Linked DNA regions of Homo sapiens. The protein of the gene in region 4 purifies or fractionates together with the protein of the main gene of each other region. This does not show direct contact. Each region holds a gene or a part of one and is shown on either strand. Other genes may lie near its edges.

Region 1 (3,500 bases), on a different chromosome or scaffold from region 4:
TTACAGTGAGAAGGAAACTCCCTCACTGAGCCTTGAATCTCCTCGGTGGGTTTCTTATATCCTCAGACCTGTTGTTCCCCCAGATAACAAATACCACTGACCGTTCTCTGCTGCCATACAGGCTTGGCTCCATTCTGGGTCAAATAAGAATGGCTCCAACCCAGCAGAAGCCACGCCTCCCAAAGCAGGAGCTGGACATCACTGTAGTTTTCCCTCTCCAGCTCCAAGTCAAAAGAATATAGAAATTGCTGGCCTGGTGGCAGTTATGCTTAGGTTTTCCCCAGGACAAGAAAGAGCTTGGCTGAAACAGGTGCAATATCAATGCCAAAGCAAGCCAAAATCCTACTATAGATTCTGAATATTTTCCCCTGTTGGCATTCTGCATGTTATAAAATGGGAGAGAAAAGATAAGTATTTGCGAGACAAAGCTCTCCAAGACCCTTATATAAGCAGATTAGGGTGATGTGTGAGTGTATGTTTCTGCGTATGGTAGTAGGAGAGTGGTGGAGTCCAACATGATATGCCCAGGAAGCAGGACCCTTTACATTTTACACTGTATTCACACACGGGCAAAATGAACAAACTTCAGGGCCCCATGCAGTTAAATCTCAATTGCATTTCTGTGGATTATCTTAGGCGAAGTTTAAACTCTTATTAATTGGTGTATGCTTATGGATACTTCAATTAATTAATACTTATGGAGTATTTTATTTTTATTTTTTTGAGGTAGGGCTTGCTTCGTCACCCAGACTGGAGTACAGTCATGCGATAATGGCTCGCTGCAACCTCCACCTCCTGGGCTCAAACGATCCTCCCACTTAAGCCTCCCAAGCAGCTGAGACCATAGCGCACTCCACAATACAGGGCTACTTTTTGTATTTTTTTGTAGAGACGCGGGTCTCATTACATTGCTCATGCTGGTCTTGAACTCCTGGGCTTGAGAGATTCACTGACATCGGCCTCCCAAAGTGCTGGGATTACAGGTGTGAGTCACCATGCCTGGCCTTGCTTATGGAATTAAAACTGGTATTATTCACAGTCAAAGCAAAACAGAGATGGGATAAAGAACCAGAATAATGAAATTTTCCTCAAGACAATCATTCTTAAAATGCCCTATGTTGCTGCTCTATTACATCAATGGAGCTAATCATGGCTTCTGCTGAAACAGAATCACAATTTATTATGGTCCTATAAACACTTGAACACACATGGTCCCTAGTTCCTGGGTGCCTTTTTCCTTTTCTTTATTTTTTTGAGACAGAATCTTGCTGTGTTGCCCAGGCTAGAGTGCAGTGGCACCATCTCAGCTCACTGAATCCTTCCACTCCTGGGTTCAAGCGGTTCTCCTGCCTCAGCCTCCCAAGAAGCTGGAATTACAGGCACCCGCCGCCACACCCAGCTAATTTTTGTATTTTTGGTAGAGGCGAGGTTTCACCATATTGGCCAGGCTGGTCTCAAACTCCTGGCCTCAAATGATTCGCCCACCTCGGCCTCCCAAAGTGCTGGGATTACAGGAGTGAGCCACTGCACCCAGCTCTTTTTTGGTTGTTTGTTTTTAAGAGATGGGGTCTTGTTCTGTCACCCGGACTGGAGTGCAGTGGTGTGATCATAGCTCACTGCAGTCTTGAACTCCTGGGCTCAAGTGATCCTCCCGCCTCAGCTTCCTGAGTAGCTACAGATGTGAGCCCCCACATCCAGCTTATGTTTGCTTATTGATTCCTCCAGGACAGTGCTCCCCAAACCCCTCTTCTCTCCACAGTCAGTTAGCAATTATCTCAGGAAAATAGAAAAATCACAGAAATAGAGAAGGGTGGATTTAAAAACCAAACATTAACTTTTTCCATAAAACGTAATTTCCAAACTAAAGAACCCAAAGAGTATTTTCATATTGCCTAAAGGTAACATGTGAATTGGGAGGGAGTTACTTACTACTGTTGAGATCTATCAGGAAAACTCTCTTCAGATGCTTGTGGTAGACAAGTGCAGCATGGACCCGAGAGCAAGACTGGTGGTCAATGGTAAAGTCACACAAATCAGGGTTTCTCCCAAATAAGTAATACTTCTTCTCATCAATAATCAGTTTCTAAATAAATATTAAATTAAATATTACTTAAATCTTGTTTCAACAGCATTTACCAAAAACTCTCCCAAATAGAGAATCTTGAGTAGATAAAATTCCTTTCCATTAGATTGAGTAAAAACTCCATCTCCTTGCATCAAAAAAAGAAAAATAAATCCTTTCCAAGGAGAAAAAAATATCTCCCATTATTCTTCAACATAAAGTACTCAGAATAATTTACTAAAATAACATTTTTTGGAGAATGGATGGTAATTCATCTCCTCAATGTAGTGTTTGTCTAGTGTTGGTATGAAAATAACTTTTCTTTCTCTTTTTTGTTTCTGAGATGGAGTCTCACTCTGTTGCCCAGGCTGGAGTACAGTTGCATGATCTTGGCTCACTGTAACCTCTGCCTCCTGGGTTCAAACAATTCTCCTGCCTCAGCCTCCCAAGGAGCTGGGACTACAGGCGTGCACCACCACGTTCAGCTAATTTTTTTTTTTTTTTTTTTTGAGATGGAGTCCCACCCTGTCACCCAGGTTGGAGTGCAATGGTGCAATCTTGGCTCACTGCAACCTCCAACTCCTGCGTTCAAGCAATTCTCCTGCCTCAGCCTCCCAAGTAGCTGGGATTACAGGCACGCGCCACCATGCCCGGCTAATTTTTTGTATCTTTAGTAGAGACGGGGTTTTACCATGTTGGCCAGGCTGGTCTCGAACTCCCGACCTTATGATCCGCCCATCTCGGCCTCCCAAAGTGCTGGGATTACAGGCGTGAGCCACCGAGCCTGGCCTACTTTTTGTATTTTTTAGTAAAGACAGGGTTTCATCATACTGGCCAGGTTGGTCTTGAACTCCTGACCTCATGATCTGCCCACCTCAGCCTCCTAAAGTGCTGGGATTACAGGTGTGAGCCACCATGGCTGGCCAACTTCTTTTTTTTTTTTTTGAGACTAAGTCTCGCTCTGTCGCCCAGTCTGGAGTGCAGTGGTGCGATCTCGGCTCACTGCAACCTCCGCCTCCCGGGTTCAAGAGATTCTCCTGTCTCAGCCTCCCAAATAGCTGGGATTACAGGCGCCCGCCACCACGCCCAGCTAATTTTTTGTATTTTTAGTAGGGGTTTCACCGTGTTAGCCAGGATGGTTTCGTTCTCCTGACCTCGTGATCTGCCCTCCTCAGCCTCCCAAAGTGCTGGGATTACAAGCATGAGCCAACCGCTGCGCCCGGCCCAACTTTTCTTAATTCTATTAGATATAAGTGGCCTGCCCTCAAGACAGTAACAACTCTTTTTTTTTTTTGAGACGAGTCTCTGTCACCCAGGCTGGAGTGCAGTGGCGTGATCTCGGCTCACTACAAGCTCTGCCTCCCGGGTTCACACCATTCTCCTGCCTCAGCCTCCCGAGTAGCTGGGACTACAGGCGTGTGCCACCACGCCCAGCTAA
Region 2 (3,500 bases), about 67 Mb from region 4:
GAGTTGTTTAATTTCAGAGTCTCGATCTAAAATTACACTTACCATCTCACCATGATTTACTTTTAAGTCTCAGAATTAATTTCCAGTAGACTTTTTTTTTTAAAAAAGCTGTAGTTAATACTAATCCCAGTTTCTGCTAGCACATACACTTCTGCCTTGATCTCCAGTCTCTCAATCAAGATGACAGTATTGCAGGCTTCAGCTGGCTGCTATAGTCAATGCCAACCACAAACCTATTAAGTATTAGTAAATGATTACTGTTTTTTGGTGTCGATTATTCTTAACTGATTAGACTGTATATGAGCTGATATTGATTAATTTTAAATAATTTATAATTCAAGGCAACTAATTAACTACTTATACCCAGCCCATTAGATCTATATTTGTTCTTTAATGTATTATAGATTTTGAACCTACCTAAGTCTGTTCCCAAGTGCCTTATGTTTTGAAATAAACAAGTTTTGGAATCTACTTGTGGTACTTGGACACCCTGTTATAATTATTTCTTCCTTCTCTCTGCTTTTTTCGGGGGGTATCACGTAAGGTCATATTGGAATTGCTGTTCCTGATGTATACAGTGCTTGTAAAAGGTTTGAAGAACTGGGAGTCAAATTTGTGAAGAAACCTGATGATGGTGAGTCTACTACTTACTGTGTTCAGGCCTGTCTTTAGTTGATATTTACTAACCACCTACAGAGGCCACTGTTGTAGTAAAACCCTTTTGGCTACAAGTAACAGAAGTCTCCACTTCAACCAGAGTTTTAAAAAAGAGAAATGATTGGAAGAATATCTGGGTATTTTAGGGAACTGAAAGACAGCAACTAGGGTGGCTTTCCAAGGCACTAGACACAGGACCTGGACAGCCATCAAAACCCTACGCTTCCTCTCCCACTGCCCGACCCCACCACTTTCTTTCATTGGCCACCAGCTTTCACTATTTCAGTGTATATCTTTCCGCCCAAAAATAAGTTCCTTAAAGTCCATTTTATCTGATGCTCATATAATGACACCAGCTCTCTTTAGTTTATAATCACATGGTATTTCTTTTTCATCTTTTATAACCTTTGTATGTCCTTAAGTTTTAGGTAGGTTTTTTGAAATAGCCTACGTATGGATTTTGCTGGGTTTACATGTATTGTTATTATTTTACTTAGATCTCTTTCTGAACTATTTCAAATTAAAATTGAAATATTAAATATTTCAGAGTCTCAATCTAAACATTTGAAATATTTCACTGTTTAATTTCAATCCTTTTTTAAAAAAATTAAAATACTTAATATCCAGTGCTGGGCGTGGTGGCTCACACCTGTCATCCCAACACTTTGGGAGGCCAAGGCGGGCGGATCACGAGGTCAGGAGATCCAGACCATCTGGGCTAACATGGTGAAACCCTGTCTCTACCAAAAATAGAAAAAATTAGCCAGGCATGGTGGTGGGCGCCTATAGTCCGCCTACTCAGGAGGCTGAGGCAGGAGAATTGCTTGAACCTGGGAGGTGGAGGTTGCAGTGAGCCAAGATCGCACCACTGCACTCCAGCCTGGGCGACAGAGTGAGACTCCGTCACAAAAATATATATATATTTAATATCCAAATCTTCTCCCCAATAAGAAAGGAATTTGCTTCACTCTGTCCTCATTGTGTCACTATTACCTAGAGTGGGATAGTATTGATTTTATTTTTTAAAGATAATAATAAATATATCACGGTGTTTGATCACTTTTTCTTCATATATCTCTTGTAGTGTCTCCTTTGAGACAGGATCTCACTCTCATCCAGGCTGGGGTGCTGCAATGGCACTGTCATAGCTCACTATAGCCTTGAAACTCCTGGGCTCAAACAATCCTCTGCCTCAGCCTCCTCCTAAGTAGCTAGGACCACAGGCACATGCCACCACACCCAGCTAATTGTTTTATTTTTTTGTAGAGATGAGTTCCTGCTATGTTGCCCAGGTTTGTCTCAAACTCCTGAGCTCAAGCGATTCTTTCACCTTGGCCTCCCAAAGCACTGGGATTACAGGCGTGAGCCACTATGCCCAGCCTTTTTAGCATCTTTTGGATTTTTCTGTTCTTTTATTTAAATACCTCAACCAAAATGGTCTTTAAAGGGGTTTTGTTTTTGTTTTTTGAGACGGAGTTTCGCTCTTGTTGCCCAGGTTGGAGTGCAATGGCACGGTCTTGGCTCACCGCAACCTCTGCCTCCTGGGTTCAAGTGATTCTCTTGCCTCAGCCTCCCGAGTAGCTGGGATTACAGGCATGCACCACCGTGCCTGGCTAATTTTGTATTTTTAGTAGAGACGGGGTTTCTCCATGTTGGTCAGGCTGGTCTCAAAATCCCAACCTCAGGTGATCCGCCTGCCTCAGCCTCCCAAAGTGCTGGGATTACAGCTATGAGCCACCGCACCCAGCCCTTTAAAGGGTTTTTAAGGCAAAACTTTTGAGATTCTGTGTAACTGAGGATGATGCCTTTATGTCTGAAGGACAGTTTTATGGAAAAGCCTAGGTTTAATTTCCTTCAGTCTTGAAAATACTCTTCTATTTTCTTTTTGCATATGATGTTGCTGTTGAAAAATCTGTCAATTCATGTTCCTTTGTATATTCTTCTGTTTTATTCTAGAAGCTTTTTATATTATTTCTTTGTCACTGCCTGCATTCTGGGAGATTTCCTCAAACTGGAATACCAATTAGCTAATTTTCTCCCAAATGTATCTGTTCTGATATTTAATTCATCTATTTTGTTCTTAAACACCTGTTATAATTTTGATCTCTAATTTTCGCTTAGTTTGCTTAATATGTTCTTGTTCTTTTTTTCATATTGGTAATATTTCATATTGTTTATTACTTTTTTTTTTTTTTGAGACAGAGTCTTGCTCTGTTGCCCAGGCTAGAGTGCAGTGGTGTGATCATAGCTCACTGCAACCTCAAACTCCTGGGATCAAACAATAATCCACCTCAGCCTCCTGAGTAGCTGGGACTACAGGCAAATGCCACCATGTATGGCTAATTTTTTATTTTTTGTAGAGACAGGGTCTTACTATGTATCTCAGGCTGGTCTCAAACTCCTGGCCTCAAGTGATCCTTCTGCCTCAGCCTCCCAAAGTATTGGGATTACAGATGTGAACCACCACACCCGGCCGGTCATTACTTTTACATGTCTAAATAGTCCTTGGGTCTGGGCATGGTGGCTCATGCCTGTAATTGCAGCACTTTGGGAGGCCGAGGCAGAGGATTGGGAGGTTCGGGAGGATCACTTGAGGCCAGCAGTTCAAGGCTGCAGTGAGCTATGATTGTGCCATTGCATTCCAGCCTGGGTGACATAGGAAGACCTTGTTTCTACAAAAAGGTTTTTTTTTAAATTATCTGGGCATGGTGGCACATGCCTGTAGTCTGTATGCCTAGCTACTCGGGAGGCTGAGGTGGGAGGATTGCTTGGGCCCAGGAGTTGGAGGCTGCAGTGAGCTATGATCCACTGTACTTCATTTCAGTATAAACGACAGAGCAAGA
Region 3 (3,500 bases), on a different chromosome or scaffold from region 4:
AACCAAAACCTTTATGATAACCCACAAGGCCATACAGGATCTGACCCATCTCCTACTCCTCTCCCCTCACTCCCTCCACCACAACCACCCCAGCCTCCTGGCTGCCCCTTGAGCATACCAGCATTACCTGGCACACTCCCACCTCAGGGCCTTTGCACTGGCCATTCCCTCTGCCTGAAACACTCTTTCCCCAGAGAGTTACAAGGCTCTCTCTCTCTCTCTCCTCCTTTAAATCTTTGCTCAGACATCACCTTCTCAATGCGGCCTACCTTGGCACCACCTCTTAAAACTGCAACTTGCCCTATATCTTCCTCTCCTTTACCCTGGGCCACCTTTTCTTTTTCTCATGACATTTGTCACTTACTAACACACTACAGAATTTACAATCTTTTTTTTTTTTGAGACAGAGTCTCGCTCTGTCACCCAGGCTGGAGTGCAGTGGCACAATCTCGTCTCACTGCAACCTCTGCCTCTGGGGTTCGAGCGACTCTCCTGCCTCAGCCTCCCGAGTAGCTGGGACTACAAGCACATGCCACCATGCCCAGCTAATTTTTTGTATTTTTAGTAGAGACGGGTTTTCACCATGTTAGCCAGATGGTCTCAATCTCCTGACTTCATGATCCGCCCACCTCGGCCTCCCAAAGTGCTGGGATTACAGGAGTGAGCCACCACACCCAGCCAGAAGTTACAGTCTTTACTGTTGCTTTCTGTCTCCCTTTGCTATGATGTAAACTCTAGTAGAGCAAAGATCTGTGTCTGTTTTGGTCACTGATATATCACTAGTACCTGACCAATAGTAGGCTCTCAATAAACATGTCAACACATAGTGCTTGACACATAGTAGGCTCTCAATAAACACATGTTCCTGAATCTTACGATGAGAACTAGAATTCAAAATAACTGATTTACAAGACTGTCTAATAAAGTACTATGGAACAGAGAACACTCTGAGTCAGTACTTGGCTATGTACGCACCCTGGGTCTATGAGATTGTCAATTCTTTCTCTGGGCAATAGTTTTCCTCTTGATATGTGAAGTGCTCGGGCTTTCTCACCACCTCCTATGATAGAAATGTGATTAGATTAGATTAGATTGACACGATAAAAAGGTCTCAATGCCAGAAAAACATAATACTTAATCCAAAATATAGCACTTTTTAAAAGTTCAACATATCCTCTGAGAAAAGGCTAATAATCATTCACTCAACTTACAAGTTGCCAATTTTCTGAAGTAAATGTAAAAACTGGTATTAAAAAAAAATCAATCTATCCCTGATTTTAGAGTATATCCTAGAGTCTATGTTCTGAATTCACTAGTAGTTACATAAATTACAGAGTATTTTCTCTGCAGCTCACATATTGCAAATAATGCCTCATCTCCACCACATTTATTAAATACATGCTATGATAGATCTGGAAAATTCCTATCTTCATTTGTACCAGGTAAAAATAAAATTTTAGAAATTACTTCCATGATAAGTGCAGTAAATTTACCTAAAGATGACATTAGTGATCCGTAACTTTTTAGGCTTGCAACTGGGTGAGTTGAACACTTTAGCAATTTAAAAGTCCCCTTCCTTGACTCAGAGATTGTCTTCAGTGCTTCTCAACATTGCTCACATCATGACAGACAAAGAAAATTATAACTGAAGAGCCCACTGGAGTATTCTTGGGAATATCTATAACCCACTCTCGGCAAACCAAGGTAATGGAGCAAGAACAGAAGTATCAAATTGTACCTTTAATAATTAAAACATTAGTTTATTTTTATTGGTGTCCAAGAATTTCATCTTAATATAGTCTTTGTCTAATGAAATGTTCAGCTATTTCAGAAAGCTATTTCTTTGTTTATTTAGGCAAGAAAATAATCTCAAACGATCTTCCAAGTAGGACCTTTTTTTTTTTTTTTTTTGAGACAAGATCTTACTCTGTCACCCAGGCTGGAGTGCAGTGGTGCCAGCATGGCTCACTACAGCCTTGAACTCCTAAATTCAAGTGATCCTCTCACCTCAGGCTTCCCAGCAGCTGGGACTACAGGCATGTGCCACCACTCCAGCTAAATTTTTGTGATGAGGTCTCACTCTGTTGCCCAGGCTGGTTTCAAACACCTGGCTTCATGCAATTCTCCTGCCTTGACCTCCCAAAGTGACAGGTGGGTCATGCCTGTAATCCCAGCACTTTGGGAGGCTGAGGTGGGTGGATCACTTGAGGCCAGGAGTTTGAGACCAGCCTGGACAACATGGTGAAACCCCATCTCTACTAAAAATATGAAAAATTAGCTGGGTGTGGTGGTGCATGCCTGTAGTCCCAGCTATTCGGGAGGCTGAGGCGGGAGAATCGCTTGAACCCGGGGGGCCAAGGTTGTAGTGAACTGAGATCGCGCCACTACACCCCAGCCTGAGTGACAGAGCAAGACTCCGTCTCAGTAAAAAAAAAAAAAAAGAGAGAGACTTAAGACAACATCACTCTTTAGCAATTCTGTCTAGAGTGGGGCCTTACAATTTGGAGCAGCTGGTGAATTCTGGTTTTATTAGGAAGAACCAGAAAGAGGGTTATCCTTGATGCAGGCTCACAGAGCACATAATTAAGCTCCCCTGACATTTAATTCTTGGCAAAGCTGTGACAGCCAAGTTTGTCCTTTCCCCCTTCTCCCTACCTCCTTCCCCAGGGAGTCCGGCTCAGTCCTCTACCCTCCTGTGGCCACCAGCCTGCACCACGGTTCCTCAGCATCCACCATCCCCAGCAGGCACCTGATGCCACAGGACTCCTCAACCCTCCATTGAGTCAAACCCACCTCTTTTTTTTTTTTTTTTGAGACGGAATTTCGCTCTGTTACCCAGGCTAGAGTGCAATGGCACCATCTTGGCTCACTGCAACCTCCGCCTCCCAGGTTCAAACAATTCTCCTGCCTCAGCCTCCCGAGTAGGTGGGATTACAAGCATGCGCCACCACACCCAGCTAATTTTGTATTTTTAGTAGAGACAGGGTTTCACCATGTTGCTCAGTCTGGTCTCGAACTCCTGACTTCATGTGATCCGCCCACCTCGGCCTCCCAAAGTGCTGGGATTACAGGCGTGAGCCACTGTGCCTGGCCCCAAAACCCACCATCTTAATGTCTAAGGGGGACAGTGAGTTCACCAAATCAAACTCTCAAAATGGGCATAACAATTGAGTTATCACCCCTAACAAAACACTTTCATTTCAGCAAGAGTTTGAATTCTTTTTCTGGAGACAACACCTTGATCTAAAATGGCTTCAAAAGTATGAATTCCATAGCTGCGTACAGGGGCACAGGTACAGTCTCAGCTACTTGGGAGGCTGAGGCAAGAAGATCACTTGAGCTCCCGACTTCGAGTCCAGCCCGAGCAACAGAGTGAGGAGACCCTGTCTCTAAATAAACTAGTAAATAAGCAATTCTAGACCATACTTTCCAAATCCAGTCTTCTTCACTATTTTTATACTCCTGAGATCCAGTATTTAAACTACTCTAACCTAAATGTA
Region 4 (3,500 bases):
TGCTCTGGGTCTTCCAAGGTCAAAGAAGGTCAAAGTCAAGGTGTTGGCTGGTTGGACTCTTACGGGGAAACTCTGGAAAAAACCTACTTGCAGTCTCGGGATGTTGGCAGAATTTAGTTTTGTGCGGCTGTGGGACTTAGGTCCTGTTTCCTTGATGGCTATTGGTTGGGGGTTGCTCTCAGGTTCTAGAGGTCCCCCTTCCTCCATTGTCAAAACCAGCAATGGCAGGCTGAATCCTTTACAAGCTTCCAATTTCTCTGACCTCCCTTTCTGCTGCATCCCTGACTCCAGCCAGAGAATGTGCTCAGCCTTTAAGGGTTTATGTGATTTGGGACCCCTCAAGAGATAATCCAAAGAGCAGCAGATGAATATCCTGCTCCCTGACAGCAAGCAGTATCTAGGTAAGTGTTTGAATAACCAGGGTAGGAATCTTGGGAGGCCATCTGTAGAATTCTGCCCTACCACATTTTTTGTAGTTTGTTGCTTTTGTTCAAGACCATATTAAATCAAGAAAGACAAGTAGGTAGTCCCATCTCCTCTCCAGCAGATTATATGCAAATGCAAGACCCTGACAGTGACAAAGCTCAAGCACTAATCCTGCTGTGACTGTGTTCAACTTTATATCAAACCACTAACAACATATATATGTCAATAAAACCTTACTTGACAAGCCATTCAAAGTGTTGTTTGCTGTCCGAGCACCCATAATCAGTGGTCCAAGCATGGCCGATGGTATATTTATGAAACTTCAGCATGTCCATTACTCCAACTTGGGCAATAACACAACCAAAGAGGTCAGGTCTCTGATTTGCACAAGCAGCTAAAAGCCCAACGTAGAAAGAAAAGGGAGGCAGTCTATCATTAAACATCTACATAAACAAGGCAAGGCAATACTTACTTACATGCTTCCAGAGCCCTGGTTGCATTTATCCAGAGCACAAGAGGAAACCATCAGAAATCACCTGCCCAATAGCCCCAAAGCTCCCCACCCACTCTGAGATCTGTCAGAGGGGGTGGGGATTCTCATCAGTAATGGAGCTTTACTCCCCAAAGTGAATCTTGAAAAGCTTGAGGACTTTCTGGAAACCCTGTATCCCCTCCTCCCATCCCCACTTGCTTTCACAGTGATGAGGGAGATTAAGGGACTTGTTCAAGATCTCAGGACCTGCCCAAGGCAAAATAAATAGGGTCTCTTCGTATGTCATTTATCAGATACCCAAATACAAATGGTACAAATGGGTTTTGCTCTCCTTATACCACTTTGTGGTCCTATCCACAAAGTTAAGTCAAGAGCTGCCTACAGATGGTGTATCTGAAAACCCCAAGAGGGCTAACTAGTAAGTGCAATGAATAAAATCCAGTACTCACCCACTAAGAGGCCTCCATTTGAACCTCCATTAATAGTCAGCCTCTTGGGAGATGTGTAACCTTCCTTGATCAGATACTCAGCAGCACACTGAAAGTCATCAAAGCAGTTTTGTTTGTTGGCCAAGATACCACCTACAGTGTGCCAAAGTGGAAGATAGTTAATTAACAAAACATAAAAATAAGTTTAATCTAATGGGAATTCAAATGATAGAGCACGGTTTCAAATACTGATTAACTTAAAAACCATGGGTTAACACTGCATTTAAAAAAAAGCCTCAATTTAAGTTCTGTTATGCACTGTGGAAATATATCATCAATACCACAATGCTAATCCATATGGTGGATCTGTATTTTTCTAAAAGCCTCTAGAACTTAAACGGGAAATGCCCCAAAGGGAACAGATGGTCGGTTATGAGAGATGTATGATAATGAAAGGATAGAAGCATGGCATCACAAGGAACCTGTATTTTGGGAAGCTGAACTTACAAATATAAAGCAAGACCTGCAGCAGTGTTTAGTCCTCTAGGTTGCACCCAGCACCCGAGCCGGAGCTGGCTGTGGGAGTGCTCGTGTCTCCCCTCCCCGCGAAGACGGAGGTGGAAGCGCTCTGCAGAGGCACGCTTCCCACCCCACCTCTGCAGGAGTCTGACATGGTCGGTGATGGGGAGAAAGAAATTCCCCAGTCTTGCCCTCGGTTATTAATGGAAAGAACAAAAGGAATTGGGTGGTGAGGTAGCGTTGCGGCAGAGCATCACATTATGTTTTCTCAATTCCAGAATGAAAGATCTTCAACGTTTCCCCAGAGAATCTGGGCTTTATCATCTGCAAATCGTTCCAGTGTATTAAACCAAACAAATTACTTGGAGAAACATTTACAGGGCCATGAAATATCTATAAGTAAAGGCCAAAAGTCAAAAGCATGTCCTCAAAGGAACAGATGTCTGAAATAACGGCCTTTGAAATGAACAAAGAGCAGACACAGATCTAATTAGATACTTGAGATTAACCACTTCTGCTGAAATTTAATTAAAGATAAAGCAGTCCTACTGAAATGTTTTTCATATCAAAACAAATGTTATTAAGATTTCAGTAAGAAATTACCAGTGAATTTAGAACAGCTAGGATTACTTAGTTACTAGGAATAACAATATTTTGGGTATATGACTACATTTTAAAAAGAGCATTAAATTTTAAAGTCAATTAACAGAATGGAATTTAGATTTACCAGTGTATCATATCCTAGGCTATAACTGGAAAAGGTCTATTTCTGGTCCTTTCATCATGGCCTAAATTTTGAGGAAGTTTATAAATCAGTCTAAACATAGTCTACTGTTAGCCTTAGTCAATCTTGAACCTGCCTAATCCCAAGACTGGAAAATAACTTGGTTCTAACTAATAAAAAATGAGAGAGCAGACTAGGACCAAATTACTCTTCCCTCTCAGAGCATGGTGGACATCTGATGACCAGAGGGGTTTTCTGGAGAATAATCCAGTTATTTCAGGAGAGGATCCCAGGATCAGGGGACCATGAGTAGGGGGTATGGTGCATAAACTACATACAATTTAAATAGGAAATCAGGTGAGTCAAGGGGTTCAGAATTAGCATACATATTTGGGATCAAACATATGGTATACAGAAATTTTATCCTCTTATCACTCATCTTTTAATATCAGTTTCACAGTATGATTTTAGTGTAAACTCTAATATCAGCTCAAAATTATGCAATGAATTCTTTGCAGTTTCAAAGACAGTCACAATCAGTAGTTTCTGGGGATGATAACTGGCAACGATGGACCAGATGGCCGGCCAGGGGCACTCACTTTCACTAAGGTGCACTTGAGGAGTCTGCTGTCAGCCCCTGGGGTGCATGCTGGATGCCCGGGGGTCATTTCTAAGCCTTTCCTGCATATGGTACCTAACAGGTACTTAATGGAAATCTCTTTACAACAGGTTTACCCTCATGTTCGCTGATTTGATTTGATGCAAAAAAAATCCAGAGCCTCAGGCCTCTGGTTTGGGATGGCATGGGAAACAGAAGAGAGGTACAGATATCTTAAGGGTGGTCTCTGATGCTGAGGAGACCCCTCTCACCTGGAGCTGCTGACCAGCCCCAAGCACTGGGGTCCTGGTA
Region 5 (3,500 bases), on a different chromosome or scaffold from region 4:
TCGAACTCCTGGCCTCAAGTGATCCATCTGCCTTGGCCTCCCTAAGTGCTGGGATTACAGGAATGAACCACCATGCCCTGCCCCAGTCAGTTTCTTAAGGATTAGATATTCCCTTGTACTCCTTTCAAATTGTGGTATGTTGATATATATGGAGACATATGTATGGAGACGTTGGTAGCATTATCAACATTGAATAAATGTTAAAATCTGTATTGCAGTAAGTCATTTTATATCTGATAGATTGAAATTCATTTGAAGATAGAAAGTCATGGCAAAATTAAGCAATCTCCTCTTCACTTTTGTATGAAGTGTTAATGTTCATGTAATTTGAAGATGATGAATGCTGTAGATGTTAGTTTGACTGTTTTGTTACCACAGATTCACTGCCTTTTTGAAATGTTCCATAGATTATAGAGTGACAGTAGAAGAAGTCAGCTCTCTGATTGCTGTCTCTTTTTCTTTCTTTGCCAAACCTCTAGAAACCTAAGTGGGTGTTTTATATAGAATATTTTTGTTAATTTTATCTGCTATAGAAAGTAGTAGTGTGTTGTTTTATATAGTTGCTAATTACATACTCCAAGCTGATCATGGCATCTTTGAATTCAGTAAATACTTTCCTTGAAGGGGAGACCTTAAGTCAAAGAAATTTGTGATTGGTTGTGAGTGGACATATAGGCTGACCCGCTGCACAGACCATCACCTGGACATGAATGAAACAAAATAGAAAAGCCAGTTTATTGTTTTTATTTCCAGTATTGTTTATAGCTCTATTTGTAAAATAATTTAGTTAGAAAAGATCCTAAGAAGACATCTTAAAAGAGAAAAGACCACTTGCTGTAAATAGTAGCAAAATGGTAATTGTCGATTCAGCATAAGAATAGGGCATTTAATTCCTTCTTTTACCTTCATTTAGAACCAAATTGAGGTAATGCCGGGTGATTTTGGCAGTGTTTATTTACCACATTGAATCAATAGTCCTGGGTTTCTGTATTGTTTTTATTATTTCTTTCCCATTTCTAAATAGGAAAGCAATATTTACTGATCATTTATTTCCTGATTTGTTTGTTGTCTTGCAGTTGAATCCTTGGCCTGAATATATTTACACACGTCTTGAGATGTATAATATACTAAAAGCAGAACATGATTCCATTCTGGCAGAAAAGGCAGAAAAAGATAGCAAGCCAATTAAAGTCACTTTGCCTGATGGTAAACAGGTTGATGCGGAATCTTGGAAAACTACACCATATCAAATTGCCTGTGGAATTAGGTATAAGCTACACCCATCATGACCTTCCATAGTTTGTGGTCTAACTAAACTTCCTTTTATTATCTTGCCATGTTTTATTCTTATAATATTTTTATGTTACCATTCAGTGTTTTTAATCTGTTTAATTTTGCCTACTTGAGATTTTTTAAAAATCAAAATGATACAGAGCTTTGTAGTCAAAATTCAAAGTTAATTTCTGAAAGAGTTTACTTTGGTCTTATCTTTTGGGGCATTGTATATTTTTAGTCTTACTATGATTATAAATGTTACAAAACCGACTAGACAGTGTTTACCTATTTCGACTTAAATGTCTTGGTTTTGAAGTTAAAAATGAAGCTACATAATCTCACATGGAAAGGTTAAGAAACTTCATATAACACATGAAAAAAATGTACTATTTTTATAAATTCAATGAAAGACTATTCCTAGTCTTAAAACTTTTATTGGGGTGGGAAGAAGTTATTTCAATTAACTGAGAATTAGATGCATATTTTGTAATAGGGGAGAGGCTTTCTTAATCTGATATGATTGGGATCAATAATTGGTCAGTTTATCAAAATAAGAGTTGGTAAAACATATATATGTGTATATATATACGCGTATATATACACGTGTATATATATATATCTTAAACTGGGTATTGGGAAACTCTAGTCATAATCTGTTTGTGTATGTCCTGAAAGCGAAAAATAAAAATGATTCTTTTTTTCTTTCTTTTTTTTTTTTTTTTTTTTTTTTTGAGACAGAGTCTTGCTCTGTTGCCCAGGAGGCTAGAGTGCAGTGGCGCGATCTTGGCTCACTGCAAGCTCCACCTCCCAGGTTCACGCCATTCTCCTGCCTCAGCCTCCCGAGTAGCTGGGACTACAGGTGCCCGCCACCACGCCCGGCTAATTTTTTGTATTTTTAGTAGAGACGGGGTTTCACCGTGCTAGCCAGGATGGTCTCGATCTCCTGACCTTGTGATCCGTCCGCCTCGGCCTCCCAAAGTGCTGGGATTACAGGCGTGACCCACCGCGCCCAGCCAAAAATGATTCTTAAATTTTTAAATAGTTGGAAAAAATAAAACAACTAAGAATATACAACAGAGACCATGTTTGGCCTGCAAAGTGTAAAATATTTGTGTGGCCTTTTACAGAAAAAGCTTGCCAATCTTGGTCTTAAACACTTCAACTTAAAATATGTGAATATGTATGTATTCACTAACTTTATATACATACATAAAACAGTGAATATATATATGTATGGCAAGGTTTGGGGGATAGCGAGTGCTAATTAGAGTTCTTACATTATCTTAACACATACGAGAAGTAGTCTGAGCACAGAATCCTTGCAGATTTTCATGTAGTTGTAGAGTTACACCTAACTTGACAGTGTTTTTGTGTGTGTGACTTGGATTTATCAAGCCTTCTCAAACATTCAACTTGGTTTTCATAGAATCCATAATTCCCTTATTGTGTTATTTTATAATTATATATTTTTGAAGTTTATTTATAAGTGTTATGTATTGAATTGAACCATTTGGAATCACCATATGAATTGTCATGTGGTTGATTATCATCAATTTTGTATTGTTGAACCAAACACGTAAAAGAACAAGCACAAAAACAGTTTGGGGAACCAACGTGGCTGATTCTTGGTAAGCGTATTATACAACTAGTAGAAGCAGAACCAGTTAGGCCTATGAGCCATGAGCATCTACTGTACCACAGACATTAGTTAGTACTTTTTACAAAGTGAATGGAGTGTTTCCATTCATTTGACAAGTGCTTCTACCTACAAGTTCTTCTACCTTACTCCAAAGGAAGTAAAAAGTTGTAATACCATGCAAGTTTCTATGTGAGAGCATAGAGAACTGGATAGACCTTTACGTATCAGTTCAACCTTTCATTTTAGAGATAATTTTGAAGGTCAGGTTGATTAATAGATTCCTCTGTTGTCACACAATGAGATTGTAGCCGTGTCATTAAAATTTAGGCTTCTGTTAGTTTGGGAACTTTTTCCTCTACCTTCTACAATGTTGATCTAGATTACATTGTAATTTATCAAGTCTTCAGTTGAAAAATATTCTTCAAGAACTATAAAATTCTAAGTTGAATTACATAGCTGGGCGTGTTGGCTCACAGCTGTAATCCCAGCACTTTGAGAGGCCAAGGCAGGCAGATCACCTGAGGTCAGGAGTTCAAGACCAGCCTGGCCAACATGGCGAAACCCTGTCTCTACTAAAAATACAAAA
Region 6 (3,500 bases), on a different chromosome or scaffold from region 4:
AGGAGACACCAGCAGCCACCTCCTTACCCGTCAAGGCCAAGGTGTGGTTCCGCCCACATGCTGCAGACACAATCACTTCGTGGCTAAGACCCTCGATGAGTCTAGGGGCTTCTACTCTCTTGGTGTCACCATGTCCCAGCTGCCCCTTCTCATTTCGACCTGCAGATCACATGAGAGAAAGTAGAAAAGAGAGAGGGTGGTCCAGGCGGCACCACCAGGAGAAGGCGAGTACAAACACACTCTCAAATGATGCCCATCTGTCTCTGGAAGGTACCCTCCAAATTCCCAACAGCCAAGATCCAGAGCAAAGAACGCCCCGGCCCTCTGCCCGCTGGAATGGCGCCTGCTGCAGCTCCCCGGACCTCCTTCCCTGGGGCAGCAGCGGGACCACCCGTGCACACCTCCCACGTCTCTGCTACAAAGGGAAATGAGAGGCTCAGTGTGGTAGGGACACCATGCACAGGCGGGCATGCTCGCAGAAACACGCCGTTCCCACTTAGAGTGCCTGCAAGACAACCACCCCGTCCCTACCCTCTGAGATGTATTTTAAGACAGCACCCCATTTTGACACCTGGCTCACCAGAGTTTAATCACTTTGGTGCTCTGGGCATCCACTGAGGACCATTTGGTGTCTGCCCAATATTTCTCTTCCTTTTTCTACCCTGTAAATGGTGCTCACATAACAGTGCCAATCCCACCCCTAGGGATCGCCCCTCAAGGACTCTCAGCCACAGGAACCCTGGTGACAAAGCACAGATCCACCCTCAACACAACACGCCCAGCCCCACCTCCAGGACTGCTGCAGGTGCGACCAAGGCCCTGTATCTGTGAATTCCAGCGGAAGGCAGGCCTGAGGGCCAACCCCTACCCCCAAGTCCTCTGCAGAACCAAATTCAACTCCAAACAGACGTGGAAGTTGGGTGGGCCAAAAGGAGGGCTGGGAGCCCCTACACCGCATCTAGGTTTCAACACAAACTACCAAGTTCCAAAACAAAAATTCAACCGGCCACTCTCGGATCCCTCCCGATAAGAGAAAAACCACACATGTAACCTGACGTGGGGAAACTGACGGAGATCTTACAGTGGTGAGAAGTCAGGGCAATTCTAGGGGGTTTTGCAACCTTCTCCAGCAATGAACTTTTCACCCTTAGGTTGTGATAAAGGCAGACAGCAGAGCCATTAAGATGAGTTCCAGCTGTCCTGGAGAAGGCTTGCAGGAGCAGCCTCTGACTACAGAAGGAATTGCGACGAAGGGAAACCAGCCTCTGACTCGCTCTAATTAAAGAACGGCGGGCTGAAGGGCCAGCACTGGCACTCGAGCAGGAGAGGCAGATACACCAGCTTCCAATGGGAGCTGCCCAAGTTCATGTGAAAGGCATGTGAATACAGAGCAACAAGTGCAAGTCTCAGTGGACTGAGATGCGGCAGGACAGGGTGAGCGGGCCACAGATGGAGACCCCACATGAGCAATGCGTCAGCCACCCTCCCGTGGTACTCTACTCACACCAGACGCCGCCCCCTGCCTTCTAGAGTGGCGAGCAGTGGGCCTGTGACACCTTCCAACCCTGTCCTCACCAACTGCACTGTCTGCTCGGGGATCACACGTCTTGATGGCGGGACATACATTGTCCCTGCCCACAGGGTCAGAACTGAGGGCGCTTTCAGAGCCACCACGCAAGTGAAGCTCAGCGAGAGATCAGAACTGAGGTATTTTAAGTTTGGAACACTGACATAAAAGGCTGTGTTCAGTGTTGGAACACAAAGTAGGAGGGGTGCTCTGGGGGAAGGGACACACATCTATGCCAACCGGGAGAAAACAAAAACTGTGGCAATGTCAGCATGTCATCAAGAGACTATAAAGTATAAATTTGGGCCAGACACACTTTAGCTTTTTTCAACAGAATTACAAAATTAGCCATGTGCAGGGAAGACAACAGATGTTAATATATTTGGACTTTGGTACAGCAGCTCATGAAATCACAAAAAACGGTTCAAACAGCCCAAAATAAAAATGCAGTCATATGGACTAAAAGCTAGCCAGAGGACCAGCGACAAAGGGTGGGGACAAACGCCAATATGCCCCGCTGGAGGCAGAGGCCGGGAGTCACCAAAAGGGCTGGGGATAAAATGAGCCTTAGCCCATACCCTATGATTGGAATGATCTGGAAGAGGACACGGGCAGGAATGGGCCGGCCGGCTGCAGAGGACAGTGCCGTGGACAGAGGCTAACAGAAGAACTGGAACCCATCCCGAGTGCCCAGGTGAGGAAAAACAGAAGGGAAAGCCGAACAACTCCAAAAAAGCAAACTGAAGTATCTGGGGAAATATCCTAAGAAGCAGACAACACGGACAGTGAGCTGCCAAGCCTGCAGACCAGACTTGGGCAGACCTCAGACACGAGGGCCATGGCGGCAGGGACGCAGCATCCTATGACATGAGGCGGGAGGTAGAAAAGCCAGTGGCATTTCAAGTGGCAGCAACAGAGGTCTCATGTCATATCGTGCCTCAAAGAGGAAGGAAACTGTCTGCTGGAAGGACAGCCTGCCTAACACACTCACACACCTCAGTATCAGAAAAGATCAAGCTTCGGGCAGAAGATTCAGGAAAATGTTCCTTGTGTAAACACAAGGAATCAAAGAAGTAGGGGCTGCGTATGGGCAAAAAATGTCAGGGGGGAAGGGGATCTGCATGTAGCGTGTAGACAAGAGACGAGCTGGGAATTAGGAAAAAAGACATGGGCTGTGAACGAAGGAGCCCAGCCTTATAAGACGCGAGTCTCTTTTCCAGGCAAACAGAAGAACGTGCTGTGTGGGGACAGCTGGTGACAGTGGTCCCCAGTGCCCAGCACCCGCACGGTACTCACCCCAGCTCCACAGCTTCCCTTCCGTGGTGATGAGGAGGCTGTGTGCAGCACACGAGCCCGAGACCACTGTCCGCACCCGGACCCCCGCCAGGCACCCATATCTGTGGGGCCCCCACAAATTCTGACCGAGATTGCGGTAAGCAGCTGCAGAGAGAATGAGAATGCAGATCAGACACCTGGGGTGGTGGGGTGACCTCCAAAATGTCACTGGCCACCAAGCAGCCACTTCCCGAGGGTACCAGGGACAGGTGTTCCTCGGGTGCCACCCTGCCTTGGCTGTTGGGAGGCTGCACAAGGATCGGGTTTTCACTTCGAATCTCTGCGATGCCTCTGAAGGCCCAAAAATCAAAATACCCAGAAGCTGGCACAGGCCTGGCGTCACCTGCCACCTTTACACCCATTCGGCCCCAGCCCCCTCTCTGGGTCCCACCTCTCACAGGGCTCAGCCCCACGTGTTCTGCCATTGAGCACGCCCACCCGCAAGTGCCCGGGACCTGGTGCGAGGTCTGTCCAGGAGGCAGGAGTGCTGGCTTTCCACAGCCGTCAGCTGAGGAAGAGGCTGACCCAGGAAACCCCGCTCACCCTGACAGTAACCTACCCCTCCTCCTCACTCCCTGCCGCCTGCCCCTCCTTTCCC
Region 7 (3,500 bases), on a different chromosome or scaffold from region 4:
AGATATGAAAAAAAAGACATTTCACTAAGAAGGTCAACACTTCCAAATTACTGAATGATCAGTGTGGTCCCCCAAAACTGATTTCCAATCACAGCACAGATCCTTTAATGGTAAACAAAAGTGAACACCATTTTAATACTGTTTGTCCTACAGAAGACAGTCTAGAAATACAAACTTGGAAATAGGAGGGTGAGGTTTTCTCAGTATCCTTCCAAGTGAAAAACTTCTGATGTGCAAACAAATCTTCTTGAGTTTGAGGGACTACTAAGCCTGATTCATCATTTACTTTCAAATTGTAGATCTATTTCCCCAGATTTTTCTGAGGTCTGCAGCATACTTAAAAGATCTCATGACTCAAATTATTAATAGCTTAACAAAATCTAACTTAAGAGGTTAAAGATGAACAAATTCATTAACATCTGAGGCAGAACAGCTGGGCAGAAATAAGCCTGGAGTAAATAATAATAATGGCTCACACTTACTATTGACTCTCTGTAATACCTTTCTCATCCATTTAGATCCATTGAGACATTTACAAGGTACAACCACCATATATATAAAGGAGACACTATTTTATCTTATTTTACAGATGACAAAACGCAGACTCAGAAAGGCGAAGTAACTTGCCGAACGTGTCACAGTAAGTGGCAGAGCCTTAAGAGAAGTCCAACGTGCACAGTTCCAGAGCCTGCAGTCTTAACCACTACCCAAAATGTAATCAAAGGATACCTGCAAACCAAAGGAAAGTAGGAGACTCTTCTGTCATTTAGAAAAATCAGTCTTTTGGTCCTAGGGTTTTGTTTTTTAAAATGTCAAGCTAAGACTCATTTCTCTGTTTACTTTCTACTGCCTCTGTTCCGTGTCATCTTAAATAAAAATCAGATCTCAACCAACCAGACAGCTAACATTTACACAGCTTTAATGATTGCTATAGCCATGGACTTGTAACATCACATGCTCTAAGAAATGGAAGAAGAAAATGAGAGGGAAGGTATTGCTAGTAGTCACAGCCTCACAGTTCAGTGAGTTACATTAAAATTGAGAAGGGGCCTGGCGTAGTGGCTCATGCCAGTAGTCTCAGTGCTCCGGGAGGCCAAGGCAGGAGCATCACCTGAAGCCAGGAATTTGAGACCAGCCTGGGCATCATAGCGAGACCCTGCTTCTACAAAAAATACAAAAATTAGCCAGGCATGGCAGTGTGTGTCTGCAGTCCCAGCTACTCAGGAGGCCGAGGCAAAGGATTGCTTGAGCCCAGGAGTTCCAAGCTACAGTGAGCTAGATCATACCACTACATTCCAGCCTGGGTGAGACCCTGTCTCTAAAAAAATAAACAACTGAGAAGGGTCCCAAGGTCTCTACCACTTACAAGAGAGTCAAAAAGAGCTCCCCCCACCTTTTTTTTTTTTCTTTTGAGAGGGAGTCTTGCTCTGTTGCCCAGGCTGGAGTGCAGTGGCGCGATCTCGGCTCACTGCAAGCTCCACCTCCTGGGTTCACGCCATTCTCCTGCTTCAGCCACCATCACGCCTGGCTAATTTTTTGTATTTTTAGTAGGGACAGGGTTTCATCGTGTTAGCCAGGGTGGTCTCAATCTCCACCTCATGATCCACCCGCCTTGGCCTCCCAAAGTTCTGGGATTACAGGTGTGAGCCACTGCACCCGGCCAAAAGCTCCCATTTTTTTAAAAGAAGAGTTCAACTTAGGTAGTTGAGGTAGACACTTTCTGCCTCCCTATGCTGCCCCTTTCTACCCCTGCTTAAATTCCTTTAGCCCTATCCCACAGGGAGTGTTATGGGCTGAAATAGATCCCCCCAACATTCGTATATTGAAGTCCTAATTCCCAGTACCTCAGAATGGGACTGTATTCGAAGATCTTTAAAGAGGCAACAAAGTTAAAATGAGCCCATTGAGATGGGCCCTAGTCCAATATGCCTGGTTTCCTTAGAAGAGGAGGAAACGAGGACAGACACACAGAGGGAAGACCACATGCAGACAAAAGGAGAAGGCAGCCATCTATAAAAAAAGAGGATTCAGAAGGAGCCAGCCCTGCAGATACCTTGATCTCCAGACTTTTAGCCTCCAGAGTTATGAGAAAATAAATCTCTGTTGTTTAGGCCACCCAGTCTGTGGCTACCCAAACAAACTAATACAGGTCATAAAAAATGCAAAAGAAATGACATAATGGAAAAAATACACAGTTGGTAGATGATTAGGGTTTTGGTTCAAGTAAGTCTGCAACTTACTTCCTGCACAAACCCAGACAAGTTACTTAACTCTCCAAGTTTTAGTTTCCTAACCTGTAAACTGAAAAAGATAATATTGATGAGATTAAAGTGAGAATATATGTGAAATGAAAAGAGTGACTATAAGACCTACCATTTATTGTGAATAACAGTAAGACTTGCCATTTATGGGTGCCTACCATGTGCACTTTCTACATAGCTACACCTCTACAGTTTTACAGTACTCTTCAAGTTAGATGTCACTGTCACTATTTTACAATTAAGGAAACTACAGTAGACATCTGGTCAGAGACTGAAGAACTGGTTCAGGGTCACACATCTAGGATAAAGAATCCACCCCCAACCCTCTCACTCTCTTTTTGTTTTCTAATGTAGAGATAGGGTCTCACTATGTTGCCCAGGCTGGTCTTGAACTCCTGGGCTCAAGCAATCCTCCTGCTTCAGCCTCCCAAAAGTGCTGGGATTACACGTGTGAGCCACTGTGCTGGCCAAATGAACCTCTCTCATTTTAAACTTATGCTATTTCCAGCTGCTAAGCTGCTTCCCTGGAACACATGGATTCAATGTGATAATAATAATCCATGTTTATTAATTAATTAATATCCACTAAACCATTCATTCCAGTGTAGATCACAGATAAATAAACTAAATGGGGGTTACCAGATCATAGCGTTCCTTACCACCACCATAAACATAAGGACAGGCAAACAAAAGATCAGAACTCTTCTCCCTAAAATGATTCAGGCCCAAAAGAAGACAAAATCCATCTATCTGTTAAGCAGCTTAGAGGGTAAAGGCTTTAACAGTCCTCATCCCATGAAAGTGCCCAGCAGCCCCAGCAAGCAAGGTAAGCAACCCCACTCCACAGATAGGGAAATAAAGGCTTACCAGGAGTCCCATCCAGGGCAGCCTTTGCGCCAGCCAAGGTCAGGAGGCCTCCTTCCTTGAGATGCTTGGTAGCCAGATGGCTGGAGATGGTCGATGTCCATATGCTCTGCTTCCACATCAGGTCACAGTTCTTAAAGAGAGCTGAGTGAAAAAAACATGTGGGCTCAGCATTCCCAGGAAAGAAACCAAAAGGTGAGCTCAACTCATGCAGCCCCACACTCAGGGAGGCCCTCCCTCCTGGTCCCCAGGTCCCTATCTACAGCAAGGTCTAACACAAACAGCACAGGGCTCAGTGGTCAGAGACACAGGTTCAAATCCAGGCCATGGGATTGCCTGAGGTTCAGCTTCCTTACCTATACACTGGCAAAATGT

What was found.
Region 1: the proteins of PREP (region 4) and PPP1R8 fractionate together in Homo sapiens (co-fractionation; one large-scale study listed by BioGRID). This does not show direct contact.
Region 2: the proteins of PREP (region 4) and GLO1 fractionate together in Homo sapiens (co-fractionation; one large-scale study listed by BioGRID). This does not show direct contact.
Region 3: the proteins of PREP (region 4) and MCCC2 fractionate together in Homo sapiens (co-fractionation; one large-scale study listed by BioGRID). This does not show direct contact.
Region 5: the proteins of PREP (region 4) and TARS1 fractionate together in Homo sapiens (co-fractionation; one large-scale study listed by BioGRID). This does not show direct contact.
Region 6: the proteins of PREP (region 4) and RCC2 fractionate together in Homo sapiens (co-fractionation; one large-scale study listed by BioGRID). This does not show direct contact.
Region 7: the proteins of PREP (region 4) and QDPR fractionate together in Homo sapiens (co-fractionation; one large-scale study listed by BioGRID). This does not show direct contact.

Annotation. Positions count from the first base shown.
Region 1 is NC_000001.11:27,837,282-27,840,781, reverse strand, and holds part of PPP1R8 (nuclear inhibitor of protein phosphatase 1), read right to left. Parts: intron 2,084-3,500; coding exon 1,930-2,083; intron 1-1,929. UniProt on the Homo sapiens protein: Inhibitor subunit of the major nuclear protein phosphatase-1 (PP-1). It has RNA-binding activity but does not cleave RNA and may target PP-1 to RNA-associated substrates. May also be involved in pre-mRNA splicing.
Region 2 is NC_000006.12:38,679,146-38,682,645, reverse strand, and holds part of GLO1 (lactoylglutathione lyase), read left to right. Parts: intron 1-544; coding exon 545-634; intron 635-3,500. UniProt on the Homo sapiens protein: Catalyzes the conversion of hemimercaptal, formed from methylglyoxal and glutathione, to S-lactoylglutathione. Involved in the regulation of TNF-induced transcriptional activity of NF-kappa-B. Required for normal osteoclastogenesis.
Region 3 is NC_000005.10:71,593,840-71,597,339, reverse strand, and holds part of MCCC2 (methylcrotonoyl-CoA carboxylase beta chain, mitochondrial isoform 1 precursor), read right to left. Parts: intron 1,061-3,500; coding exon 976-1,060; intron 1-975. UniProt on the Homo sapiens protein: Carboxyltransferase subunit of the 3-methylcrotonyl-CoA carboxylase, an enzyme that catalyzes the conversion of 3-methylcrotonyl-CoA to 3-methylglutaconyl-CoA, a critical step for leucine and isovaleric acid catabolism.
Region 4 is NC_000006.12:105,281,083-105,284,582, forward strand, and holds part of PREP (prolyl endopeptidase), read right to left. Parts: intron 1,501-3,500; coding exon 1,369-1,500; intron 821-1,368; coding exon 664-820; exon of another isoform or gene 1-663. UniProt on the Homo sapiens protein: Cleaves peptide bonds on the C-terminal side of prolyl residues within peptides that are up to approximately 30 amino acids long.
Region 5 is NC_000005.10:33,447,465-33,450,964, forward strand, and holds part of TARS1 (threonine--tRNA ligase 1, cytoplasmic), read left to right. Parts: intron 1-1,076; coding exon 1,077-1,267; intron 1,268-3,500. UniProt on the Homo sapiens protein: Catalyzes the attachment of threonine to tRNA(Thr) in a two-step reaction: threonine is first activated by ATP to form Thr-AMP and then transferred to the acceptor end of tRNA(Thr).
Region 6 is NC_000001.11:17,422,678-17,426,177, forward strand, and holds part of RCC2 (protein RCC2), read right to left. Parts: intron 3,008-3,500; coding exon 2,864-3,007; intron 160-2,863; coding exon 28-159; intron 1-27. UniProt on the Homo sapiens protein: Multifunctional protein that may affect its functions by regulating the activity of small GTPases, such as RAC1 and RALA. Required for normal progress through the cell cycle, both during interphase and during mitosis.
Region 7 is NC_000004.12:17,498,591-17,502,090, forward strand, and holds part of QDPR (dihydropteridine reductase), read right to left. Parts: intron 3,270-3,500; coding exon 3,129-3,269; intron 1-3,128. UniProt on the Homo sapiens protein: Catalyzes the conversion of quinonoid dihydrobiopterin into tetrahydrobiopterin.